Linked DNA regions of Homo sapiens. The protein of the gene in region 4 interacts with the protein of the main gene of each other region in a pairwise test. Each region holds a gene or a part of one and is shown on either strand. Other genes may lie near its edges. The genes, in order: SNAP29, KASH5, SSMEM1 and VAMP4.

The links.
Region 1: the proteins of VAMP4 (region 4) and SNAP29 interact in binary tests that used the Homo sapiens proteins (3 or more experiments, as listed by UniProt).
Region 2: the proteins of VAMP4 (region 4) and KASH5 interact in binary tests that used the Homo sapiens proteins (3 or more experiments, as listed by UniProt).
Region 3: the proteins of VAMP4 (region 4) and SSMEM1 interact in binary tests that used the Homo sapiens proteins (3 or more experiments, as listed by UniProt).

Annotation. Positions count from the first base shown.
Region 1 is NC_000022.11:20,861,990-20,869,018, reverse strand, and holds part of SNAP29 (synaptosomal-associated protein 29), read right to left. Parts: intron 1-7,029. UniProt on the Homo sapiens protein: SNAREs, soluble N-ethylmaleimide-sensitive factor-attachment protein receptors, are essential proteins for fusion of cellular membranes.
Region 2 is NC_000019.10:49,398,237-49,405,265, reverse strand, and holds part of KASH5 (protein KASH5), read right to left. Parts: intron 6,242-7,029; coding exon 6,124-6,241; intron 5,810-6,123; coding exon 5,759-5,809; intron 1-5,758. UniProt on the Homo sapiens protein: As a component of the LINC (LInker of Nucleoskeleton and Cytoskeleton) complex, involved in the connection between the nuclear lamina and the cytoskeleton.
Region 3 is NC_000007.14:130,210,860-130,217,373, reverse strand, and holds the end of SSMEM1 (serine-rich single-pass membrane protein 1), read right to left. Parts: intron 3,895-6,514; coding exon 3,840-3,894; intron 1,401-3,839; coding exon 904-1,400; 3' UTR 530-903; downstream 1-529.
Region 4 is NC_000001.11:171,704,037-171,711,065, forward strand, and holds part of VAMP4 (vesicle-associated membrane protein 4), read right to left. Parts: intron 6,779-7,029; coding exon 6,678-6,778; intron 5,765-6,677; coding exon of another isoform or gene 5,709-5,764; coding exon 5,629-5,708; intron 2,383-5,628; coding exon 2,331-2,382; intron 499-2,330; coding exon 470-498; 3' UTR 1-469. UniProt on the Homo sapiens protein: Involved in the pathway that functions to remove an inhibitor (probably synaptotagmin-4) of calcium-triggered exocytosis during the maturation of secretory granules.

The DNA.
Region 1 (7,029 bases), on a different chromosome or scaffold from region 4:
AGGCATGAGCCACCGCTCACAGCATATGAGCTCCACGAGGCAGGGACTTGCTCTGTTCACTGCTGAGTCTCTGCAAATCTGCCCAATGGAGACGTGAGTGATGCTCTGTGGCCACAGTGGCAGCCTGATGGTCCCTCCAGAGCTGATGGTTCTGGTTGTGGATATACATTCACAACATCAACACTACCACTTTCCTTTATTTACGACAAACTTGCTTCAGTCCCTAGTTCAGAACTGATCTACAGCTGCGGCCCATCTGTGAGCTGCCTTTCCAGCCAGAAGGCTCTCGAGCTTCATTTTTCCTGCTCTGTCAGGCAGCCTCTGCCCTCAGCTGCCTTCCTCTGAATCTATCCACCCATCACCCTGTGGCTTAGCAATTACACTAACTATGCAAATGTTTTTTAGATATATTCTCTCTTGATGCCTAAAAACAAAGTCAAAAAAAATTTTAAACATCCTGGAAACCTGAAGAGCAAAATGCAACTATAAATAAATGGTTGTGGCTTCCTTAAAGTCCTTAAGGAATCAATGTGTAACCTGAGTCCTTGTTTAATGGGTGAAATTTAAAAACATAATGTATAGGCAAAAAGCTAAAACACTGGTTGGTTGAATTTACTATTAAACTTTGTTTAACTCTTGCTGGAAATAAACTTAGAACTGCTGAATTTTACAGCTTTCAACGTTTATGTTTTTCACTAGTTCACAAGAGATGTCTGAACAAACCATCAGCCTTTTTTAAGTAAAAAAAAGATGTTTTCTGGATAGTGTCACTCAGTATGTCAAGCAAATCTTGCAAGGGCTAGTTTTCAAAAGAAAAAAGAGCTGCTAATGTATCTGGCATTTCTGCTCCTTCCATCACCTCAAGTTTATCATCTTCATGTCCACACTGCGGTCTTCTCTGGAATAAGGCAGAGCTATACGTTAGGATTAACAGATTTTCTCCAGCATCTACATGTTTTTCTGACAGTCCAGTTCCAGCTAGCTTTGCAGGCTGCAGAAGAAGCTTTCCAGTAGCTGGAAAGACACTCAGAGCAGCCAGGTTGGGGACTGGGGAATGAAGAGGTGGCCAAGACTCTGCTGTCACATTAGGAGGGAGGTCCTCAGCTTCCCTGATGGTGAGCTCCTCCCATCAGGGCCAACCCACGACCACTCACCCTCCCACCCTGACCTCCTCATCTCAATTTGGAGAGCTACCTTCCCCAGTATGGACTTATTTTCTCTTATTCACAAGAGACACATTCTCTCAAACTCCCAGAGTCTGTGCTACTGTTAAGGAAACCAGATGGCTGATTTAGATGTTTAGATGGGAGCACAGAGAAGTCTGTGAGGGTGGCTTATCTTGCCTGTGAGGCTGGAAGGCCAGGCGACTGAGTGCTGCTCTGGCCTCTGGAAGTTTCTGTTTGCTGAAAGCTAGTGTTCACCAGAGGTCATGAGGCCAGCAAGGGAGGAGTTGTTTCTTCTGCTAAAATCCACCCCCAGAAGGCAGAGGAAATGACCGGACTTAATGTGCTTGTGACCTAGTTCCAACCAATGAGGAAGAAGGGTTTGACAGAGCAAACACCAAAATACCAGGAAAGAGAACACTGACAGTCTGTAAGGACAGGCCAGGCAGACACCTGTGCCCCAGCCACCACCAAGACAGGCCTCAACCGCTCCAGGTACCGAGGCAGGTCCACACCCCCCTCCGCAGAGCCACGGCCCATCTTCTCCAACTTCCCGTGGGAGAATGAGGTCCCTGAACGGACTTGGGTGGCTGCTAGGGGAGTGAGCTCCGCAGGTGCCCTCAGTGTAAAGGACGCACATGCAAAGTGCTTCCTTGTTTCAGTGATTACTAAGCATTACAGGTGATGCCCTTCTTACTCCCTTGAACCCCAACAAGAGTTCTCTCTTTGTCCACGAAACAATCCCAAGTCTCTGTCCTGATGGTGTTTACAGTCTAACAGAGAGCAAGATGAGTGAGGTTCAATCTCAGCTTTTCATTTGTTGACAACATTGCAATGCTCGGAATCCAAGAAAGGCAGATGAGTCCTTGCTTCACTGAGCTTACAGTCCTGTGGGGGAGGCAGAAACTAAAGCTACTGCACGCGTGCACACAAACACATACACACACAGAGTCACCTCTCCCTGCAGACTCTTTGTTTAGCTTAAGGTGGGGGTCAGAGAGGCTCCCTGTTGAGGCTGGAGGAGAGACTGAGAAGTTAGGCAGTCAGAAAGTTGGGGGTCCTGTCCATTTGGACTTAGTTTTCCTAAAAACAAATCACAACGAAGAGTTGGGGTGGGGCAAGGGCACCAGGCAGAGGGTGCAGCTTGTGCAGGGGCAGAGGAACCGTGTGGGGAGTGAGCGGGGCTACCCACAGGACTCGGCAGGGAACACCCACAGGATGTCACTAAGGCCTTCAAAGGGCAGCAGTGACCAACAGATCTCAACTGCAACTCGCAGCCAACACATCTTATAACATCAGGTGGGCTTCCGTGACCGAGACCTCCCCAGGTTCCTGACGGAAGGGCATCAATACTGTGTTTCTCATACTGAGCTCGTAAACTCAGGTTCTGATAAATGAGGTTCATCATAAGTAGACGGAGGCCAATCTGGAGTCAGTGAGCTGAATCTAGAAATCTGAAATTTATCTTTGTTCCATCTCTCCCTTCCCAAGGGAGTGTGCACAGGCACAAGCCTTGGCAGGGATACGTGAGCACCCATGGCAGATGCTCAAACCCGGGGCTCTGACTGTGGCAGCTGGAGTATGGGGTGGATTCAGAGACAAATCGGGTCTTAGGGTGCAGGAAAAACCACCAAGGGCAAAGGCGGTAGTGCTGGTGCCCCTCGCCGTCTGTGTGCAGGCCAACCTGGGGCTGAGCAAAAGGCTAGCTCAGCAGCTCTGGGTTGTCCATACACTCCACATTCCAAAGAGAGGTGTGGCCCTAGCCTGGTTCCTTGTTTTTGGAATATCCTGCCTGATAAGAGTGTCCTTGCTCAAGTGAGCCTAAGCTTAGACCAGGTCAGACAGACTATGCTAACAATGTGATATATGATGGTGGCCTTGGGCTACACGTTATCAGCTTGACCTCTGGTGGGGTTGGAGACTATACTCAGCCATGCCTATGTGACAGACTCCCCAAAAAACTCTGGACACCCAGGCTTAAGTGAGGGTCCTTGGTTGACAATACTCTGTGTGTGTTGTCACGCACTGCTTGGAGAAGTGTTGTCCACATGACTCCATGGGGAGAGGACAACTGGAAGCTTGTGCCTGGTTTCCCCTGGACGCTGCCCTATGCACTTTTTTCATTTGATGGTTTTAATCAGCATCTTTTCATTGTAAGAAACCATCACCATACGTGTAACAGTTCTGTGCATCCTTCCAGTGAATCAGTGAAGTTGAGGGTAGTCTTGGGAACCCCCAAACACCTCCCTACAACACTTCCCACTCTAAGAACACCTCAGAGGCAGAAAGCTGTATAGCAGATGGCCGCTCAGCTTGTCACAGCATGTTTCCTGGTCAGCAAAGCAAGGTTCCTTGGGACAATGTGGCAGCTGTGAGTGGATGTGCCCAGGAAGGAGAAGCCAGAAGCTCGAACAACCAGCCCATCCTCAGAAGGCATCCTGTTACAGCCAACAAGCCAGCAAATTGGCCTGGGATCAATGGTCTAATTCTTTTTTTTTTTTGAGACAGGGTCTCACTTTGTCACCCAGGCTGGAATACAGTGGCATGACCTCAGCTCACTGCAGCCTTGACCTCCCTGGTTCAAGAGATCCTCCTACCTCAGCCTTCTGAGTAGCTGGAACTACAGGCATGCACCGCCATGCCCAGGTAATTTTTGTATTTTTTGTAGAGCCAGGGTTTTACCACATTCCCCAGGCTGATCTTGAACTCCTGGGTTCAAGGGATCCACCTGCCTCAGCCTCCCCAAGTGCTAGGATTACAGGTGTGAGCCACCACACCTGGCCATCAATGGTCAAATTCAATCATTGATAGTTTACCAAAAATTAATTAAAAATAAATCCCGAACAGACCTAGCGGTGAGTATGTGGTCCAATGCCATTTCTCCACCAGACTCCCTCCCACCTGCTAGACACAGCCTGACATGTGTTGGGATGCATTTTCTGGTCACAGGACAGGCATTGCAACCAAGGCACACAGCTCAATGCATTCTTTCCACCCAACTCTCTCCTCCTTTTTCAGGCAATCTTCTGTTCCCTCCCTCCTTCCTTTCCTTCCCCAGGTCACTTATTCATTTGGCAACTATTTTGGGAGCGCCAATAACGCTTAAGGACATTGTGCTGAGAAGCGTGGGGGTAGAAAGTTGAGCAAGAGATGGGTAAGAGACTGCTCCTCTTCCACTGCTGACATTTACAAATTTGAGGAATTACTTAATCTAGCAGCTGCTTGTCCCCATCCATCAACTTTTGCTAAGAACTCTGGCTGCATCAGTATCACCACACGCTGCCTCAGAGGGGTGACTTTGGTCTGTACGGCCCCTCATTTGGAGTGGGCTGCTCCAAGACCAGAATCCCTGAGAATGAGGATATCACCTTTTGGCAATGTATCTACTCTAAGTTCCGGGGACACCTTGATGGCCTCTGCTCCTGGGCCAGGAGGGGTGTCCTCCTCTCTCCCACCTCTGAATGGAATGCCCAGTGTGGGTGACTGTTGTGTGCTGGAAAGACACAGAGATGGGTGGGCCCCTGCACGAGACGGTGTGGAGGATGTGCTGGCGGTGGCTGCTGAGTGCATCACGTTTGAACTCTCAAACTCTGTCCCTTTCCATTGATGTTACTGTGCCAGCCGTTCCAACCCTGGTCTAATGTTTGTTGCTGGACTCCCCTGAACCGAGATCTCGGGCCCCAGAAAACCTCAGTGGAGTTAAGTTCAGCTACAAGAGGGGAAGCAGAGTGTCCTGGGCAGGTGAGTCTCCTCCACTGGAGTGATGAAAAGGTGTACAAAAACCATGTCCAAGTAGGATGCAAATAGACTCACCAAAAGGTGTAAACAACCTCAATGCTCATCATTAGGGGACAGGCTGCATAAATAGAAGTCATTTGTTCAATGGAATACAACACAGCCAAAAAGAAAGCCCAGCTCATTACATACTAGTGTGGAACAAACTCCATTCTATTAAGCACATGCAGACCAGAATGTATACAATACTTCACTTAAAAAAAAAAACCCATTTTTATCCACGGCATTATCTCCCCAAAACACTGAAGGAGGGAAAGTGCCTGGCTGCCTTAGGGGCAGAGGGATGATAGGGAGGGAAGTGGGAGAAGACTACACCCTTTTGTATGTTTTGAAATTTTGAACCATGTGATTGGAATCTCTCTTCATAAAAATTAAACCTTAGGAAAAAAAAAAGAAGAAATCATGCTTACTAAACAGGGAAAGAGACGAGTGGCTTACAAGTCTCCCTGTAGTTCTACAAAGCGCCTACCAGGTCGGCCTGGGGAAACCGCCCTGCTCCCACTACTTCTCCTCTGTTCTTTTGTGGTCATAGCCTGTGGCCTGAGCCTTTGTGAGAAACAATCCTTGCCAGGTTTCACAGTAGGAGAAGGGCAGCTCTCTTTGCTAGAGGTGACTTAACTAAGCCATTTTCCTGCCAAGCTGGGACTGAATTATAATCTTCCCAACCTAATATAATTTGTAAAGTCCTCATCTTTGACATAAATCTGTCATGTGTTGGCATGTTTCACAGTGCTGGGGTAACCAGGCACCTAAGTTGGGTGATTAGCAGGGTATGCTGGAATTTGCTGGAAGCCACACTGTGCACTGAGGGTTGGAAGAGCTCATACTCCTCTGTTCCCATCCCAACACCAAAGGGAATGAAAGAGTGATTAGAGTGATTCAAAGACAGCTTGGAGCCTGTAATCCAGCACTGGGAGGCCAAGGTGTGCAGATCATCTGAGCTCAGGAATTCGAGACTAGCCTGGGTAACATGGCGAAAGCCCATCTCCACCAAAAATACCAAAAATTAGTCGAGTGTGGTGGCGTGCACCTGTAGTCTTGGCTACTTGGGAGGCTGTGGCAGGAGGATCACTTGCACCTGGAGGCAGAGGCTGCAGTGAGCCAAGATTGCACCACGGCACTCTAGCCTGGTTGACAGAGTGAGACCCCCATCTCAAAAAACCTCCCCCAAAACAAAACACAAAAACAAAGACAGCTTGGAGAACACTGGGTGTGGTGGAGATGTAGGTCATCCCTGACTCCCAGGGCTTCTCATAATTGAGAACTGACCCAATCCTGGAAAATTCCAACATGTTGTCTCACTGACAAGAGCACCTGTCACCTGCCCAGTCATGACCACACTGTACTTCTCACAGCAATGCCTGGCCTGGCCAAGCCTGATATGCCTGAAGTGCCACTCTGCCTCAGCTCTCACTGTCCCCACTGCATAGAAAGACCTTTGGGGGCAGCACGGGGCATGTCATCACAATCTATATCAAACTCACCACTATTACATTTTTGCCTCTCCTGCGCTATGAGACCAGAACTTTCCCTATGACCTCCAAGGGCTCCTAAGCTACCTCCTCCATCCCCTGTCCTCTAACACACCCAGTCTATCATGTCCCTCCTCTGGACCCAGGAGCTCTGTTGCTGGGCCAGTGCATTTGCATATTTTCCTGTCTTCCCTAAGAACATCCCTCATTCTCACTCCTCTTGTGTAAACCTCAGCCTTAAAAGCTAGATTCAAGTTTATCCTCTGCCACAATGCCCTACTTTGAATCATTGATTCCCTACTTCATTTGTTCTCAGTTTACAAAGATGTCTCCTTAAATAGTTGTTAGTTGAATTCCTTGGGCTTGAGATCCTCAATCATGTGACCCATTCACCAGGGCCCTAAAACCTCAGGCAATCCTCTCAAATCTAAGCCAAGACTTCCCATTTAGAATGGAACATAGGAATCCAGTAGGTATGAGATGTAAGAACTACAGGCAAAACCTCCCTAACAAGGTTAGGACCGGGCGCAGTGGCTCACATCTGTAATCCCAGCACTTTGGGAGGCTGAGGTGGGCAGATCACCTAAGGTCAGGCGTTT
Region 2 (7,029 bases), on a different chromosome or scaffold from region 4:
AGGGTGGTCTTGACCTTCTGACCTCAGGTAATCCACCCTTCTTGGTCTCCCAAAGTGCTGGGATTACAGGGGTGAGCCACTGCACCGGGCCTGTGCTCCTTTTTCATTTTGGTTGTCTCAGAGATTTCTTTACATTTACTTTGATTGAGGGTCCAAACAAGGTCCATCATTGCTTTTGGTTGAAATGTCTTACTTCTTTTAATCTGACAGTAATTTCTGCCCCCTCCACCCCGACCCTGGTACTCTTCAGGCCCTCATTCTGTGGAAGAAAGCAGGTCCCTTGTCCTGTAGGATTGGTGCGTTCAGATTAGGCTGATTGCGCTCTTGTTCCCTGTGGTTATGTTCACCACTTTCCTCTATCATTATTTCTTATAAACTGGTAGGTAGATCCAGGGCCTTGTCCAGACTGTTGTTCAATTTCTTGGCAAGATTGGGTGGTGCTATACATATCAAATTGTGCCATTCAGGAGTAATGCCAAGTCTGGTTGCCCTATTAATAGTATAATCATTTCCAATTTTATAAAGGAGTAGAGAGGCTAAGAGACTTGGCAAGGTCACATGGTAAATGGACTCAAACCTAAATCTGTGTGATTCCAAATTCTGTTTATAATCCTCAGACTCTCATGTGAGCCAGACACAGCCCTGGGTGAGAATGGGACACAAAGGGAATTAGGCTCTAGAGGTGGCGATGGATGCAGAAGCGGGTAACAATGCACGAGGTGGGCTCTGGTGAGGCCTACAGCCTGGGTACCATGGGAGCACTAACAGGCTTCCTGAGGAGGCGTTGCTGAGTCTTCAAGGCTGAGGGCAGTTAGCTGGGAAAACAATAGGCCGGAGAGGGCAGCCCATGCCAGCCATGAAATGGGACCTGAACATAAAATGGCCCAGATTCCAGTCTAAAGTTTAGGGGCACCAAAAACCTATCAAGTTGCACAGGGTTTCAAAGCGAGGTGGTCACTGGGGAAATGCACTTTGGGGCATGGAGGCAGTCCAGAGTTCCCTTTCACCACGCCCCTCCTCTTGGCACTCCAGGGGATACACCAAGGCCAGCCTCTCCCTCCCTCCAGCCAGCTCCAAGTCCTCCATCAGCTGCTCTCCCTCTGTCTCAGTGGGCCTGGGCTGCCAGGTGAAGGGCAGAGGAAGGACGGGAAAGGAGTGCTGTCTCAACATCTGTCCACCTGGTAGGGATTTGCAGGCCAGATCCTGGGCCACTCGGCAGGGAACCTGGTTACTCAGCTGCTCCTGCCTCCTTCTGCAGTAACCTGAGACAGCTCTGTAGGTTCTCCACAGGAAGGCTGCCTGGATCTTCAGTGTCTGAGTGTCTTGTTACTCCAGCATTATTCTACTGTAACTTGAGAACTCAATCTATAGATGCTCTGTAGGCAGCTGTGTGGAGGGGGAAGGTAGAGGGGAGGGAACCAAGAATAGCTCCAGTTTATCGAGGGCCGAGGGTGTCCCAGATGCTGCTCAAGGCACTCAACCTGGCAGCAGGCCTTCCTGGTGGGGAGGAGGTAGAGATGAGACTGCTGGTTGCTATTTACCCTGCTTACTCCTTCTGCTTTTGTCGAGGGATCTACTCTCTCTGTCTGAGGGCAGATGGGTCCCAGCCCCAGCCATGGGAGTGAGTCAAGGTGGAAATCTTGGCAGATGCAGGAAGCTCAGCTGGTTAGCTAAGCCAGCAGCCATTCTCACCCCTTCTCACTTGTTCACCTGCCACTCTAGAGGCTGAAAAAGGTCACATATTCTCCTGGGCTCCTTTGCAGCTGGGGGCGTTATGTCAGCCAGTTCTGGCCAGTGAGATGTAAGAGCTGCTGGGGGTGGGGTGAGAGGCTTCTGATGAAAGGAGCCACGAGAGGGGCATTTCCTGGCTGCCCCCCCCCTTTTTTTTTATTTTGAGACAGAGTCTTGCTCTGTCGCCCAAGCTGAGTGCAGTGGCACAATCTCGGCTCACTGCAAGCTCCGCCTCCTGGGTTCACGACATTCTCCTGCCTCAGCCTCCAGAGTAGCTGGGACTATAGCGGCCCGCCGCCATGCCCAACTAATTATTTATTTATTTATTTTTTGTATTTTTAGTAGAGACGGGGGTTTCACCATGTTAGCCAGGATAGTCTCGATCTCCTGACCTTGTGATCTGCCCGCCTCGGCCTCCCACAGTGCTGGGATTACAGGTGTGAGCCACCGCGCCCAGCCTCATGGCTCCCCTTTGCCCCACGTTTTCCTACTTTGAATGAGAACATGAGATTGAAGCTGTTGCAGTCATCTGCAATAATGAGGCCACAGGCAGCCAGGGAGCCACCAAACCTCCCAGAGACCACCTTCTTCCCAGAGACCACCTTCTTCCCAGAGACCACCTTCTTCTAAACCTCTGGTTAAGGAAATGAATGTCGTGTAGATTGAAGTCATCATTTCTTTGTTCTCTTCCCTGGAGCGTTCTGGACCCATTAGTGGCCATATTATCCATGTAGTCTGGTTATAATGGCTGAATGGCAATGAACTGTAAGGCAGGAAGTTCTGCCAGGGGGCTTCAGGGAAAGTTTTTCATTTTTAAAAATTTTTTTTGAGACAGAGTCTCGCTCTGTCACCCAGGCTAGAATGCGGTGGCACAATCTCAGCTCGCTGCAACCTCTGCCTCCTGGGTTCAAGTGATTCTCCTGCCTCAGCCTCTCAAGTAGCTGGGATTACAGACGCCTGCCACCACGCCTGGCTAATTTTTATATTTTTAGTAGAGGTGGGGTTTCACCATGTTGGTCAGGCTGGTTTCGAACTCCTGACCTCAAATGATCCACCCATCTCGGCCTCCCAAGATGCTGGGATTACAAGCGTGAGCCACTGTGCCTGGCCTTTCATTCTTTTATTTACTTTTTTTGTTTTTTTTTGTTTTATAGAGACGGGCTCTCACTATGTTGCCTAGGTTGGTCTCGAACTCCTGGCCTAGGCAATCTTGCTTTGGCCTCCCAAAGTGTTGGGATTACAGGTGTGAGCCACCATGCCCAGCCGGAAAGTTTTTCTTTTCCTTTTTTTTTTGAGACTGAGTCTTGCTCTGTCGCCCAGACTGGAGTACACTGGTACCATCTTGGCTCACTGCAACCTCTGCCTCCTGGGTTCAAGCGATTCTCCTGCCTCAGCCTCCCGAGTAGCTGGGATTACAGGTGTGTGCCACCACACCCGGCTGATTTTTTTATTTTTAGTAGAGATGGGGCTTCACCGTGTTGGCCAGGCTGGTCTCGAACTCCTGATCTCAGGTGATCCACCCACCTCGGCCTCCCAAAGTGCTGGGATTACAGGCGTGAGCCACTGCGCCTGGCAACTTTTTCATTCTTAAAAAGGGATGTTCTGAAAGAAACTGTCACATCCTGCTGCATTCCATGTCTCACATGGTACAGCCATCCTGCTGTGAGATTCCCATTGCCCCAAGGGGGTGAGTTTTCATGGAAGAGCCAGAAAATAGCAGAAAGATTTTGGATTTCAGTGTAAAAAACACTGCACATGTAGGACAAAGATATTTTTTGGGAATACATGATCTGTCTGGACTAGGCAGAGATCCTTAGAGCTGGGGGAGGAATGCAGGACAGACAGAGAAGAGAATAGGCTGAAAATGAGCCCAGAGTTTTCCCCTAACCCAGGGCTAGCTATGAGGGGTGGAGGGTATGGATGGAGAACCGCAGAGCCCTGGAAGTCTTGTGATCTGAGAGGCCTTGCGTGTACTTCCCAGAGCACTCTCAGAATCATCACGGTGTGAGAATAATAGAGATGCTACTTTCTTGTGAAAGCAAAGAGGCCTCACTGGTGGGTCCTCTCCAGACCTCTGCCCACCCCAGCCCTGTGTCCTCCAGTCTGTCAAGGCCTGGGTGGGGTTTGGGATCCTTCAGGGAAATGAGTGACGGACAGGGACTTTGCTAACAGCTCAGGGAGAACAGAGGAATCTCTCTCCTGTTTCTCTTTCCCCAGAGAAGCCACATCTCCCCACCATGAGCACCCACCCTGGCCTGGGGAAATGAGGCAGGGGCTTTGGGCAGTGACCCCAGCCTCTTCCCTTTCACAGGAAAGTAGCCAAATCACCTCCCTGGCTCTGGAAGGGTGTGGAAGTGGTGGAGTAAGAGTCCCAGCCCAGATAAGGGATCACCACCAGAAGATGAAGAAGATGGTATGTCCAGAGATCCAAAGGCAATGCGGGCCTCACAGTAGATGCCAGCACACAGTGGTGACAAACGCTTGGACAAAACCCATCAATCTCATGAACAGCAGAGAGGAGAAACATTGAGTGAGGATCAGCAGCCTCCTAGAGCACTAGGCTCCTGCATCAGTCTCCTGCAACTTAGATACCACCTTGAGGTCGGGGGTGGTGACAGGTTTCATTGTCAATTGATGAGTTTGTTTCAATCTAAAAAAAATTAGGTGGGCCCAGAATGAACTAAGATGATGTTTTTCTGTCTTGGATGGAACGGGGCTTGAATTAAATGTGAAGCTGAACTCAGTCTCTTCATATTGTTTGCTAGTCCCTCAGTGAAATGCTGTCAATCCTCAAAACAAGCCTACTGAACAGATACCCTTCTTCCAGTTCTTTGAAAATAAAAGTAGGTCAGGTGTGGTGGCTCATGTCTGTAATCCCAGCATTTTGGGAGGCTGAGGTGGGCAGATCACCTGAGGTCGGGAGTTTGAGACCAGCCTGACCAACATGGAAAAACCCCGTCTCTACTAAAACAAACAAACCAACCAACCAACAAAAAAACAAAATTAGCCAGGTGTGGTGGCACATGCCTGTAATCCCAGCTACTTGGGAGGCTGAGGCAGAAGAATCACTTGAACCGGGAGACGGTGGTTGCCATGAGGTAAGATCGCGCCATTCCACTCCAGCCTGGGCAACAAGAATGAAACTCTGTCTCAAAAAAAAAAAAAAGAAAAAAAAAAAAAAGAAACTAAAAGTAAAGGCTTGAGAAGGAGAAGTCACATGCTTAAAGGTTGCCTATTGTGTAAGTGGCGGAGATGGGATTTGAACTCAAGGTTGACTTCAAATCCAATTTTTTTTTTTTTTTTTTTTTTGAGAGGCTCTCGCTCTGTCATCCAGGCTGGAATGCCATGATGCAATCTTGGCTCACTGCAACCTCTGTCTCCCGGGCTCGTGCAGTCTTTCCACCTCAGCCTCCTGAGTGGCTGGACTACAGGTGCACACTACCATGCCTGGCTTATTTTTCTATTTTTTGTAGAGGCAAGGTTTTGCCATGTTGCCCGGGATGGTCTCGAACTCCTAGGCTAAAGGGGTCCACCCAGCTAGGCCTCCCGAAGTGCTGGGATTCCAGGCATGAGCCACTGTGCCTGGCTGTTTTATTCACTGTAAAAAATACTAATATAGAAACAATGCTAGATAACTTTTAGTGAGCACATCCTATGTGTCCTACCTTGTGCCCAAGACTTTGCAAGTATCCTTCGGTTGAAGTCTCACACAAACCACTGAGGCAGATGCCATTGTTTTGTTCATCTTTATAGGTGAGGCAACTGAGGCACAGAGAAGGGAGGCACTGGTCCACTCTTATGTAGGTGGCCTCAGCCTGAAGCCATGTAGGCTGACCCCATGCCTCACACTCTTGTAAACCACGGCTGTTCTCACAGTGTGATATAACCTCAGGGACATTCCCACACTACTGACATTCTGAGGTCTCCCCAAGACAGGCTGCTGGGGTGTTGGGGGCAGAAGGGAGTGGTGTCAAGAAGACCTTAAGGACTGGGGAAGGGGTGGGGGTGGTGCTGGGCCTCCGCTCACCTCCTCCTGCAGAGTCTCCATCTCAGCCACCAGATGCTGCTGCTCCTTTTCCTGACCAACCCCAGAGAGAGGACAAAGGTTTCATTTCTAGCCTCCTTGCCCCCATGTTGCCCTTCTCCCACCCCTGAAAACACAACCAGGGCCTGGGGGAATGGGTCTGGGAAGCCCTGATGGCTCCTGCTGTCTCCTTTGTCATGAGAAGGATGGCAGGTAAGCTTGAAAAAGTCTAGGGTGAGCAGGGCCTGGAGAGAGGGAGAAAGCCAGGTGACCTCTGCCCCTTCCTACTCCATAGTCACACTCTGCCGCCCTGACTCCAGGAAACAAAGAAGAGAGAGGGCACCTTCCTTCCCCTGGGCCAGACCCACCGCCTGCCGGGCTTGGGCCAGAAGGCTGCGATTCTGTTCCTCCAGGCTCCTGGCCAGAGTCTTCAGGTCCTCCAGCTCCTCATCCATGGCCTTGGCAAACTGCAGGGCCTGCTGGGTGCTGAATGCGGGTGGGGGCAGATGAGCCATACGAGAGGGAGGAAGGCAGAGAAGCACAGAGACAGATCCATTCTGAGAGACACTAGCAACAGAGAGATCCCAGGTGGTAGGCAGGGACAGAGACCCAGAGAGAGGGGAGGACAGAGACCCAGAGAGAAAAGAGGAGAAGGAGACCTGGTGTGGGCACAGAGACCCAGTTTTAACCTAAAAGACTGAGGAAGTGGGAAAGAGACCTAGAGAGAGTGGGGGACTAGAACAGGGAGACCACGATAAACATGAAGAATGACAAAGCACAGAGAGATGAAAGGGCGAGTGACATGAAGAATCAGAGAGTTAAAGAATAAAGAGAGAAATCTAGGCTGGGTGCAGTGGCTCAGGCCTGTACTCCCAGCACTTTGGGAGGATAAGGCGGGAGGATGGCTTGAGCCCAGGAGTTTGAGACCAGCATGGGCAACACAGTGAGAACTCATTTCTATAAAAAATAAAACAAAATTAGCCAAGCAGGGTGGTGGGCCTGTGGTCCCAGCTACTTGGGAAGCTGAGGTGGGAGGCTCGCTAGAGCCCAGAGGCGGAGGGTACAGTGAGCTGTGATCACCCCCACTGCACTCCAGCCTGGGTGACAGAGTGAGAACCTGTCTCAAAAAAAAAAAAAAGAGAGAGAGAGAAGTCTGAACCCTCAAGGGAAAGATAAAAAGACCAAAACAGAGGCTGAGAGATAAGAATCAGAGAGACACAAAAGATAAAAACAGAAAAGGGAAAAGAAAGGACAGGTACAGAGTCAAAGAGCAG
Region 3 (6,514 bases), on a different chromosome or scaffold from region 4:
TTCTCCACTTTTGATGTGTAAGTCCTTGGCCTGCCTTTAGCATGAATCCTGTTAGGTCACTTTATCAGGAATACTCCTATGTTTGATGTCTCTCTTTGGTAATTTCCCATCCTGTGATGTCCTCCTCCTGCTCCTGGCTATAAATCCCCACTTGTCCTTGTTGTATTCAGAGTGGAGCTCAATTTCTACTCTCTATTGCAATAGAGTCTTGAATGAAGTCCTCCTGGCCATTTTAACAAGTGTCAGAATAATTTTTCCTTTAACATTTGCCATGCACTTTGTGGATGACAACCGTGGGTAGCCCACTGCCAACTGCCTTCTGGGTCATGCTGCCTCTCCTCCCTACTCCAGGAATCAGATCTTATTCCAGCCTCTTGAGCTCCTCTTCCACACCAGCCCCTAGCTGACATGTGTGGCAATACAGTTCTTGTAGGGTCAAACCTAGAGAGGATGGGGCAATTCTATTCCAACCAACTTCACCTAGTTCATTCAGTCAGTCAGATAAGCAAAACATCTGAATACATTTAAGTGGTTTCTCAACATAAATAATACATTTTCAAAGAGCTTTCTTATTCATATTACAGACATAAACAAAATACATACACTCAAGGCACAAAATATATACACTCAAGGCACAAAATATCTGTCTTGTGCTATTTCAAATAAAAAAATCATAGCAGATATAGATCTTTGGTGTTCCAATGGTGCCATAAACACGTGATGGCCTTTTTTTTTTTGAACGAAGAATTGTGTGAGATTTTACCTCTTGGGTTCCAAGTATGTTTTTGTTTGTTGGTAGAGAGACTTTGTTGTAAAAGTCTCCTCACCTATAGCTCTGGTGATTTTTCATGTTTTATTCATCTCTTTCATTTGGCTTCAAGTGAAGGAAGAACGTGATAAAATTCAAAATTTACTAAATTTCTTGTTAATGTCAGATATGGAACTTTCCTCTTGACTGTCTCTTTTCATTGGCGGTGTTACTGAAGGCTTCTGTCGGGAATGGTGCGCCAACCATTCGTTGGTTCTCAAGGCTTTGCAGTGGAGGCAGTGCCTTTCGCTCATTTGGTAACTTCCCAGATTCCTTTGCCTCTGAGCCATTTTTCTCCTCTTAATACTGTCTGGTGATGGGTGGTGTTCACTTTCACTCTCCTTCCACGAGGAGGCTTCTGAGTTAGACTCTTCACTGCCATACTCCGTAGTATCACTGTCATGTTGGTTCTGGTTCACCTCATTGAACTGAGACTGGCGCCTGGCTCGTCTTTGTTCAGGATAGGCATTGACCAAAGCCACTTCTGAGTTGGTTACAGGGGTAAGTTGGTTCTGCTTTGGTTTCTTCATTGTTTGTGAGGGATCCCAGGCACTGTCTTTGCTTTGCCGCTTACAGGAAGTCTCTTTGCTTGCTAACAACCAATGAAACATATCAAGTTAGTAATATTGTTGGTTACTATGAATTCCTATTACTTAAGAAGCCTGTGCACGTGTGAGCTCACTCTTAGTGGCCAGTTGTCAAGCCATTGCTTTTCTCCAGTCACCTGCAAGTGTTGGCAGCTGACTGCATTTTCTAGTACCATATCCCAACTCCTGCAGACCAGAGAGCTTAGATAGATGCTTGACATATCACCATATCACTTTTGAAGTTTTGTGGATGCTAAACATAAGGTCAAAGGAAAAGATCTCTAAACTTTTCCAGGGAAGAACTCTTTTTTCCCTTTGAAAATTGAAGTCTTACAGATTCAAGCAGGTATATGAATGTGATTTGGGGAGCAGGAACTAAGAAGGATCTTTCCTTTACGTAGTGGTGTGAGGAAGTTGGCTTGTACCTGCTCAGAAGAGCTGATAAACTTTCAGGAATTTTGAGAGATGGTTAAACATAGCCATTATTAAAAATTAAATTATACCAACTTACAATAAATTAAGTTACTAAAAATAGAGGTAATACTCAAAACCCATCACTTCCTAATTATCTTACTACATTTGTTTATGCTATGTGCTCTTCTGGTTTTTTATGTCCGTTGTATTTGGATGCTGGAAACTCTATGCTGTTTTTTTGTTTTGTTTTTTTTTGTTTTTGAGATGGAGTCTCGCTCTGTTGCCCAGGCTAGAGTGCAGTGGCACGATCTCGGCTCACTGCAATGTCTGTCTCCCAGGTTCAAGTGATCCTCCTGCCTCAGCCCCCCAGCAGCTGGGATTATAGGCACGTGCCACCATGCACAGCTAATTTTTTTGTATTTTTAGTAGAGACAGGGTTTTGCCATGTTGGCCAGGCTGGTCTCGAACTCCTGACCTCAGGAGATCCACCCTCCTTGGCCACCCAAAGTGCTGAGATTACAGGCGTGAGCCACCACGCCCGGCGGAAATTCTATGTTAAGGGTGCACTACTGCACATCTCCTCCCAACTCCATGTTCAATGACATGAGGTGGATAGCTTAAAATCAGCTTTGGTGGAAGTATTTATACCACGAAAATCAGCAGACACTAAACATCAGGGCTTGATGTATGGCTTTGTTGATTGTCTAGGCTTAAGAAAATGATGGAGAACATGTTACTAATGCAGATTACATATTACATTTCAGTATCATCCCTGTAGCCACTACATTGTGACTAACCCTGCAAAATGAGGAAATATTCTTCCAGTATTTTAGAACTATTATCCATTCCAGCAAAGAAGTCACTCACATCACTGACAACCAAGTTAAGTTCCAACATACATCTATCTTCTGCTTCATTTTCATCTCACTCCTTAACTTAGAGGAAAATAACATTCACGCTGGAACTATACTTGTTCATCAATTGCAGCCATGGTTGGCTAAGGTGCAAGGGTCTGGCAAAAATGAAGGAGAGCGTTTTGTGAGAATCAGTTGTCTATATGAAATTGGCCATAAGGAGTATTGTATATTTTATTATTTTAAATGGTGTGATATATATTTATTTATTTTTATTTATTTATTTATTAAATTTTTAGAGTCAGGGACTCACTGTGCCGCCCAGGCTGGAGTGTAGTGGCATGATTATGCCTCACTGGCAGCCTCGAACTCCTGGGCTCAAGTGATTCTGTTGCCTCAGCCTCCTGAGTAGCTGAGACCGCAGGTGCGAACAACCATGCCAGCTAATTTTCTTTTTTAAAAAGACAGGGTTTTGCTATGTTCTCCAGGCTGATCTTGAACTCCTGGCCTCAAGCAGTTCTCCTGCTTCAGCCTCTGGAGGTGCTGAGATGACGTGCAACCTTTATATCAGTAAAATTTTTAGTAAGCATATGTACACACAGGAGTTTTGGAGAACCAGTTGTTAAACATTTACCAGTGCACCACTGCTTATAGGTTATTGAAAAAGATGTCATAGACAGTTCATAATCCTGTAATAGCACTAACCATGAGGATGTGGGAAGGGCAAGCAATGTGAAGGGAGAGAGCTAAGGAGTGAAAAAAGAACTTGAGTTCCACCTCCCAGTAATTCATAGCTTCTTGCTAAGCAGCTAAACTGTCCCTCTGCACTAGGGAGTCCAAAGCAAAAACTCACCCAACCCCAATGGGCCTCCTCTAGTGTGCAAAGTCTTACAATGCTGTTGGCTGTTCATCTCTGTTTTTTGCTTTCCACACTCAGCACAAATTTCTTTCTTTGTCTTTATTTCATTTTTCTTTTTTTCTTTTTCTTTTCTTTTCTTTTTTTTTTTTTTTTTTTTTTGGTACTGGGTCTCACTATGTTCTCAAGCTGTGGTCTTGAACTGCTTAGCTCAAGCAATCCTCCTGCCTCAGCCTTCTGAGTAGCTGGGACTACAGGCATGCAACACCACACATATTCTTCCCCTCATAGTCCAACACCAAATATGCACTGGTTCTCACCTTTCCTTACTGAAGTACTTGTCCCACTGCCTTCATCCTTTTTATCCTCAGACATCTGTTTCAGAAACATAGGTTAGTAAGAGTGATCTCAGTTGTTTTTTGATAATATGTACTTGTTATAAAACACTATTGCTGAGGCCCATTTATAATGTCTGGTTTTATTTTTTTATTATTTTATTTATTTATTTTTGGAGAGTCTCACTCTGTTGCCCAGGCTGGAGTGCAGTGGCATGATCTCAGCTCACTGCAACCTCTATCTTCCGGGTTCAAGTGATTCTCCTGCCTCGGCCTCCCAAGTAGCTGGGATTACAGGTGCCCGCTACCACGCCCGGCTAATTTTTGTATTTTTAGTAGAGACAGGGTTTCACCATGTTGGCCAGGCTGGTCTTGAACTCCTGACCTCAAGTGATCTGCCCACCTTGGCCTCCGAAAGTGCTGGGATTACAGGTATGAGCCACTGGGCCTGGCCTGACAATGTCTAATTTTAAACATTCAGTTTAAACAAGTACTTACTGAGTTAAATAATAAGCTAATTCAGTATGTATTGAGTTCCTGTTATAGTGATCCTACTTCCACTTCCCATTAAGACTATGCTTTGATAGCAGCATCTACCAAAATGTTTTGGACCAAACAAAATGGAACAGACTTGAGAGAAAATAACACTGACAAGGAGCTATAGCTTATAAAGCTTTCCTGTACCCATTTACATTACAGAGAAGTAGTGTTTTTAAAAAATTTGATAGTACTCAGATTAGTTTAGTTGTTGTTTTTTTGTTTTGTTTTTTTGTTTTTGTTTTTGTTTTTTTTTTGAGACGGAGTCTTGCTCTGTATGCCCAGGCTAGAGTACAATGGTGCGATCTCAGCTCACTGAAATCTCCGCCTCCCAGGTTCAAGTGATTCTCCCGTCTCAGCCTCCCGAGTAGCTGGGATTACCGACATGCACCACCACGCCCGGCTAATTTTGTATTTTTAGTAGAGACAGGGTTTCTCCATGTTGAAAAGGCTGGTCTCGAACTCCTGATCTCAGGTGATCCACCTGCCTCAGCCTCCCAAAGTGCTGGGATTACGGATGTAAGCCACCGCGCCTGGCCCAGATTAGTTTAGTTCTTAAAGGACACTTGATCAGGGTACATTACTGATAGTTCTTTAAGACAGAAGACATCTACCATACACAAAGATCTTTACCGAATTCATGAACTTAATATCTCCTTAATCCCTCCGAAAGTTTCCTCCAAAATGTAATCATGATATATTATTTGTGAATACAGCAACCAAAAGAAATGGATTTCTTTGAATAGTTTCAATTTCAAATATTCTGCCCCCCAATACTCCATAAATATATTTGTCCCATTTTTCAGATTAGTGTCCCACTTTCTAATGCTGAAAGTGATTTTGCCAAAAGACACAGATATAAACCAACTCTTTCAGAAAATAACAAAAACTAGAAATTTTCATTAACACCTTTGACATATAATTCTCTCTCCAGGAATCTATCAGCAAGAAATAACCCTCAGAAGAAAGAAAGCTTTGTCCACAGAAACATTCATCACAGTATAATTAGGATAATAGAAAATTCAAAAGTAGACAATGGTTTAAGTAAATTATGGTACAATTATATAATAAACAGTTGTAAAATTATTATAATAAAAGTATGTCATAACATGAGGAAATAAGTGTGCTACCATACTGGGTTAAACATCAAGATGCAAATTTGTATATACAGCTTGAGCGACAAATTAGCTTAAAATATGAAAAAAAAGACTTTAAGGAGCATATAAAAGTGATAGCTATGGTTGGCTTTAAGTGGTGAAATGGACTTTTTCTCTTCTAATTTTTTCAAATTGTCTACAATTAGGAAAAAAATGAGTTTATGTGGAAGTCCAGTTTCTTTGGGATGAAAAGTGCCATAGTTCGGTATTTATAACTGCAATCTAAGATCCTCAGCTCATTCTTAATATCTGATCTCTGCAATGGTAGGCAAGCATCTTTAATGAGGTGCCTTTTTGTTTTCTGGGTTACAGCAATCATTCTCCAAAAATCTTGAAAGCGGAGTTCACTTTTAAGATACCACTTTCTGGCCAGACACGGTGGCTCATGCCTGTAATCCCAGCACTTTGGGAGGCTGAGGCGGGCAGATCACAAGGTCAGGAGATCGAGACCATCCTGGCTAACACGGTGAAACCCTGTCTCTACTTAAAATACAAAAAAAATTAGCCGGGTGTGGTGGTGGGTGCCTGTAGTCCCAGCTACTCAGGAGGCTGAGGCAGGAGAATGGTGTGAACCTGAGAGGCGGAGCTTGCAGTGAGCAGAGATTGCACCACTGCACTCCAGCTTGGGTGACAGCGAGACTCTGTCTCAAAAAAAAAAAAAAAAAGATACCACTTTATAAAAAATGCTTTTGGAAGAGGCTTAAATATTTTAAATTTAATATGTATCACTTAGGTTATAGAAAAGGAAAAAAATAAATTTAATATATGTAAAGAAAATCAAAATAATTGGAAGTTTATAAACCTAAAAGTTAACAGTAGTTGGTTATTTCTACATAATCTGGAGTGATTTTTATTTTATTTTGTCTTCTGCCCTATAATTTCCACATTTTCTATATAATGTGTACTTTTGTAATAGACAGGAGAAGGTATTTAAAAACACTTATTAGGCTTATATCATTTCCACAG
Region 4 (7,029 bases):
TAATATGAAAGGAACTATATTTCTGCAAATATTGACAGAATGGTTATGCATCTCTTTCAGCATATAATTTGGTACTCTACACAGGCTTCCTGACCCCCAGCATGACCCGCTCCCTAATGCAATAATGCAAGTCCTTATGCCATTAAAATATTAATATGAAATATTATAATCAGTGTTTATATACACAAATAATGAACTGGCAAGTATCTAGTTTCAAATTAGATCCTTGAAATATGGAAAAATAGAGGCTAGTTCTCTTTGCCTTAAACATAATTATTAAAAGAACATTTTGTTAGAAAGGGAGAAGATAATTGGACATTCTCAACGTTCCAATTTGAAGTGATACTTGCCTCTTAGTTTCTTGAAAAAGAAGTTTTGAAAGTTATATACACATAGGTTTCATTTAAATTATGCAGCAATCTTTTATTACTGTCCCAGATCTTGTTTAATGAAGATCTCTGTCATCAAATCAAGTACGGTATTTCATGACTATAAGAACTGTAAGAGAAAACATGAAAAAAGCAATATATCAACATCAGATATATATGCTATGTTTGAAGCAATATTCCTAAATGTAGTTGTGTCTACTTTTAGAAATGGGTAATGAGGATTGACTGAACTTTTATCTGAGGTAATAAATAATCAATGGGAAAGGAGAAGCAAAAAATATCATAAAACAACCTAAATGTCTAACATTGGCATCTTAAATAAATAATGGCATAGCCATAGCTTGTATCTGCTGTTAAAATATTACTAAAAATTTTGATAACCTGGGATAATAGTCACAATATATTTATTAGAAAGTACATATAATATAGTCTTAGTTTTTTAAAAAACATGCTTGTATATTAATAGGAAAAGAGAAGTATATATAATAGTTATATTAGTAGCTATCTCTACTAATTGTAAGATTATAGTTGAATTTTTCTTCTTTTTGTTATTAATATTTCACATTTTCCAATTGCTCACTATATATACATGATTGATTCTTGGTTTCTGAGGTAATTATTTTCTATAAGGTCACTACAAACACTAAATTAGTGAATATGGAACCACTGCTTCTAGGGAAAATATAGGGTTAAGTTCCTGTGAGTCTCTGGCTACTACATTTTTGTCAATCAATGCATAACCTTGGTTTATATGTGTTTCTGTTTAAAGACACTTTATTTAATATGTATTATTGATTCAGTAACACTGTGCTCAAGGCCAACAGCACTATAATTCATGCCTGAACAAAAGTTTGCCTAATGTGTATTTTTTCCATGAAGACACATCACAGCTCTCTTGTACTGAGCAACACTAGACAGCACTTCAGCACCACGTGTGGGGACCATTTTAAACAGTGAAATCACCAACAAAAAGCACAACAATGCAGAAAATGTGGTACTAAATAGACTACAAAAAGAATGTTTATGTTATGAGTGCTGAAATAAAAAGGCAGAAATGGCTTTGTTTAACCTCAGCTAGGGATGTGTGGGTTGGGGGACTTACAATTTTTTGTTACTCTGAAAATGTCTGTAAATGACTGTGAAAGCACCATGAGTACTGATTTTGGGGTTACAAATAAATTTTACCTGGTAACTGGATTTGCAAACACGGAATCTATGAATAATGAGGACTGACTGTATTTCTTTGTAACAAAACATTTTTTTCTGTTTAAAAATATAACAGCATAATATAATTTTTCAAATGATTATTTTTAGATACTTTCCAAAGCGTCATAAAACCTCTCTGTAAACATAGGCAGAGGCCTTGAAGAAAAAGAGATATTTAAAATGATCTGATTTTTAAAAGAACATTAAGGGAAAAAGGACGGGAAGGAGTCATGCTTTAATGATGGAAATTATGCTCAACTACAGAACAAAACAAAAACCAAACAAAAAAAAATCATCTGGAGAACGTATTTGGATTTATACTTCCAAAACAATATTACAAAATGCAAACTGCCATTCCTGAGAGTTAATAATAAATAGAAAATGAGTATTTTAGACCTTAGTGTAATAGGAACCAGATTTGGCCTTGAACAAATCACTTAGCCCTGGATTTGGGGGTGAGGGTTGGGGGCAGAACAGGAGTTCCCTTTGAGAATCTGACAAAAGATATAGACCCTCTCTCCATAAAAATGTACATATACATATTCACATAAAATTTTACATATTACTTAAGAGCATTTTCAGAGATCAATAGATTCTAAGAGCTCCTGAGACAGGTCAGAAGTCATTATTCAATCCTGACTTCAGACATACTAGGTCAACTGAAAATAAAAGGGAATTAAAATGAACTCCAAAATAAATGATACCCTAGGAAGTAATAATCCAATAAATACTTACTGATAATCACTAGCAAAAGGATAGCAGCAACCAAAGCCATGATGGCTTTTATCTACAACACACAAAAGGGCATATATATTAATATTTGACTTGTTAATAAAGTCAAGACTATTTGTTGTTCTATTTACTGCATCATACTAAATCATCTCATCACCTTAAGGTTTCTTAACTACAAAACTGACACAGAATGCTCTTAGGCAAAGTTGCTTATTACATGAGGCTATTCATAAAGAATCTAAAATATATTCCTCAAAATGGAGATAAAAATGCAAAGAAGAAAGTAAGGGGAGAAAAAACTAACAGAATTCTCATATACTTTGAAAAAAAGTGCTATAAACTGCTACCTTCGATGTATTGAACCATTTGAATTGCATGGCCTATGTTATTCATCATATCTTGACACTTGAACAGAGTTGCTAAAATACTGTACATTTTCTCTGGTCTCACATTAGTAATAAGCCCATCAAATCATAGAGGTTCAGTTTATATGATAAAGTACTTTAAGCCTTTTTTATTAATCTGAAGCATTTCTAAAACAATTTGGAATTTCTACGGTAGTTTTTCAACTTTACCTGAAATGTACATTAATTTGCCCTGTTAAACGTGTGTTTGGCTTTACTTAAGAAGATTTGAATGAAAACATCAATATCAATTTTAAAACACCTCAATGAATAGAGTTTTCTTCCTTGGGTTTCTAACACTGGGCAGAAAATGTTTACAGCTCCAAATGGCAGTATTGTATTCATGCAAGTCCAAAGCTCTCTTATTCCAAATAACATGAACAAAAATCTGTTTGTCATTAAACATATAAGAGTTTCACAGCCCCCAGATATATTAAGAGAGGTGTTAGCGATTCTCTTTCCCCACCTATGGATAATTTTATTAACTCATTTATTTTTAAAGCCAGGTATATTGAGATACACTTTACAAAGAATAAAACTTATCCTCTTAAAATACTTTTGATAGGTTTTGACAAATATATCCAGCTGTTAATAAACATGACCACAATCAAATATAGGACATTTCCACCAACACCCTTAACAAGTTTCCTCATGACCTGTTGTGAGTCTCCAACTGCACGACATCCCCCTTAGCCACTGGCAACTCCTGATCTGCGTTCTGCCCTTATATCCTTTTTCTTAAAACCCTTCTGAAATTACCATTATGGAAGTCAATCTAGAAAATGGCAGGCACAGGGAGGCTGCCCCAGATGAACAGTAGCACAATGAAGTATTAATGGGGCACAGTAAAACTGAAGGAAGCTAAGCATTAGAAAATAATAAATGAAGAATACTCGCTACTGTAAATGGTGTTTGTTACATTATGGAACAATGATTTTCATTACATGGTCGATGCTATTCATGGTCCCCAGAGGTTCTCAAGGTGATGACTATTTAAAAATATGACTCAATGTTTTTCCTCCTTAAAAGCACGCTATTCCTCTGACCCAAACCCCATAAAGTACAAAGCAAACATTTTTAGCAATGGTTAAAAAAAAAGCTAGGCAAAATGTACATTATGACCATCTTTTTGTGGATACATGAATAGGGTACATGAGTTTGGGAGAGAGAAGGGGTGAGTGGCTCATGGACTTTTTGTTTTTCTAAATTAGCCCACAGAATAGAAAATTTCTATAGATATAGAAGCTTTAGGCAAAGTGTGGTGGCTCATGCCTGTAATCCAGCACTTTGGGAGGCTGAGGTGGGCAGATTGCTCGAGGCCAGAAGTTCAAGACCAGCCTGGCCAACATAGTGAAACCCCGTCTCTACTAAAAATACAAAAATTAGCCAGGTGTGGTGGTGCATGCCTGTAATTCCAGCTACTCGGGAGACTAAGGCAGGAGAATCGCTTGAACCTGGGCTACTTAGGAGGCTGAGGCATGAGAATCACTTGAACCTAGGAGGCAGAGGTTGCAGTGAGCCAAGATTGTGCCACTGCACTCCAGCCTCAGAGACACAGCAAGAGTGCCACAAAAAAAAAAAAAAAAAGACTTTAAAGAAAATAAATTTATTCTTTAAAGAATAAATAACTTAAAATAGAATAGAAAATTTAAATTCTGAACAAGGGGAGAAATGAAACATATTTCTTCCCTCAGTTCCACTTCTGAAAGTAGGACGATTCAATAGGTAGACAAATAAAAATAAATAAATCCAAGGTAACTCTTGGAAAAAATCCTCAGCATATGGCTAAGTCAGGTTTAGAAAGTTATTGCTGGCTGGTGCAGTGGCTCATGCCTGTAATCCCAGCACTTTGGGAGGCCAAGGCAGGTGGATCACCTGAGGTCAGGAGTTCAAGACCAGCCTGACCAACATGGAGAAACCCCGTCTCTACTAAAAAAAAAAAAAACAAAAAAAACAAAATTAGCTGGGCATGGTGGCACATGTCTGTAATTCCAGCTACTCAGGAGGCTGAGGCAGAAGAATCGCTTGAACCCTGGAGGCAGAGGTTGCGGTGATATTGTGGTGAGCCGAGATCAGCCTGGACAACAAGAGCAAAACTCTATCTCAAAGAAAAAAAAAAAAAAAAAAAGGAGAGTTATTGCTAAACTTGAAATTGAAAATGAGAGACTAAAAACAGTGAGTTCATGTCTAAATTTTAAACAAAGCCAAAAATTATAACTAGAATCAGGAGAAAAAAAAAAAAGATTTGCTCATATAACGTGAAAAACATTTTCTGTTAATGATTAGTAGCCACAGTGGATTTAAGAAGTAAATGTATTTCTATACAATGTTTTGCAGGAGTATATATTAGTATGTAGTGATTCCAATGTTTACCTTGTTAAAAATGGTAAAAATTTCTTTTACTTTTTATTTTTCTGGAATAATGAGGGAAGTGGAGTTTTTTCTTAACTCCATTTGTCTTAACAGATTCGGATATGTAAGCTTTTATTTTTTACCCTTTCAACCGAAAGTCATATTTTTCTCTAGCTCCTACTTTTGATATCTCTACATAATGCTATAGAGGTTGCTCCAAAAAAGTATTAATAGTAAATTTCAAGAAAAAATGTATATTTGTTTTAAGTTAATAAGTTTAGAGGTAGTCAAATATTAATAAAATGTGGATTACTTTCATTAAAAAAATCTATGAAAACATCCTTTTAGGCATACTGATTTATTTAGTTATCCCTATCCCAAAAGCAATTAAGTTAACAAGTATTTACTGAATTTCTACCATGTCTCAGGACAGTTATAGGCCCTGTTCTCACAGAGGTTATGCTCTAGAGGCCCTTTTTTCTTCATGTGTTTGAATACCACTTCAGATGCTGACCAGTCTATCCAGTAGCTTCTGATTTACTTACTTTGCATCCACGCCACCACATTTGCCTTCGAAGTTGTTTGGATCTGTTGCTAAAAGCTGTTGCATTATCCGATAAGCTTTCTATATCACATAGAGGATGGAGAGAAGGATTAAACGACATAACAGGATTCTTTTATCTAGTCACACAAAGATAAGAAAATATTAATTTCTACTTCTGCAAATTTATTCCCTTTTAAGCATGAAAACAGCATTCTCCCTTTTTTCCACCCACAAACTCTGGCATTCTACATTATTAAAAAAATGAAAACAAAAAGCAAAAAACAGCTTGCAGATCAGTTTGCTCACTTCTTTTTTATTATAAAATTAAGAAAAGTCTTTTTAGGGCCTTAATGCTTATAAATAAACTTAGGAAATCTAGTAAGAAAAATACTCTTTAAAAATTCAAATACTTGGCACACCTCTAGAAAAAAAATTACATGTTGAGAAGTTAGCTTCTTAGAAGATATCAAAAGTGACTGATTTTAAAGGAAAACAATATACATTTTAAATGTGACTAAGCGAGGTGTTTTTTTTTTTTCTAAAGTCTGTCAAAGATTAATCAGGTATTCAGCCATTCACCAAACAATATTTGAGTGGCAAGTACGTGCCAGGTATAGGTATAGGTATAGGTATAGGTTATAGGTGTAATGACTGAAAGTAAAGAAAGGTGACTAAGTTACCAAATAAAACATAAAATAAAAATAGCAGATAAGTTTGAAACAAGTGTTGAAAAGTGAGTAGGTCTTTAGGCCCTGAGATCATGAGAAACACAAAGTTCATCAATATCACAGGGCAAAAGAAAAAACAGCTCTACTCTTCACTCTTCAACAATGAAATTTTAAATTCTTCATTCTCCACTGAACAATTAAAAAATAATGAAACAATAAGATGACTCAAAGTAAAGGAGTTAAAATTAAACCATTAAAATCATATACTTAAGAACCAAATGCCAATTTCCTAAGCCAAGATTTGTAAACGTTGGCTAGACAAGTAGAAGACAAAAACTAGCAAACAGATTAGTAATATCAAGAAATACATGAAGATCTGTACCTGATTTGTCCTGTAGTTCATCTAGTCTCTCCCCTCTCTCAATTACCTTTGTAATATTTTCTTGCATGACATCAATAACTTCATCCACTTGATTCTGAACACTAGTTTAAAAAAGATACACAATTATTTATCCTTCTTTTGAGAATGCTTACAATTTTTAAAACTTTCATTAGACATAATAAAGAATAGCAAATTCTCAGAGAATTATTCAACTATAAAATTTAAATTTAAGACTTTGTAGCAATGTTCTTCCATTTGTGGGCTTCAGTACTCAGATAATGAAAGACAATATGATATAAATTAAAGTAATATTTAAAGATAGCTTACTTTTAGCCCTGCTTCTGACTTGTAA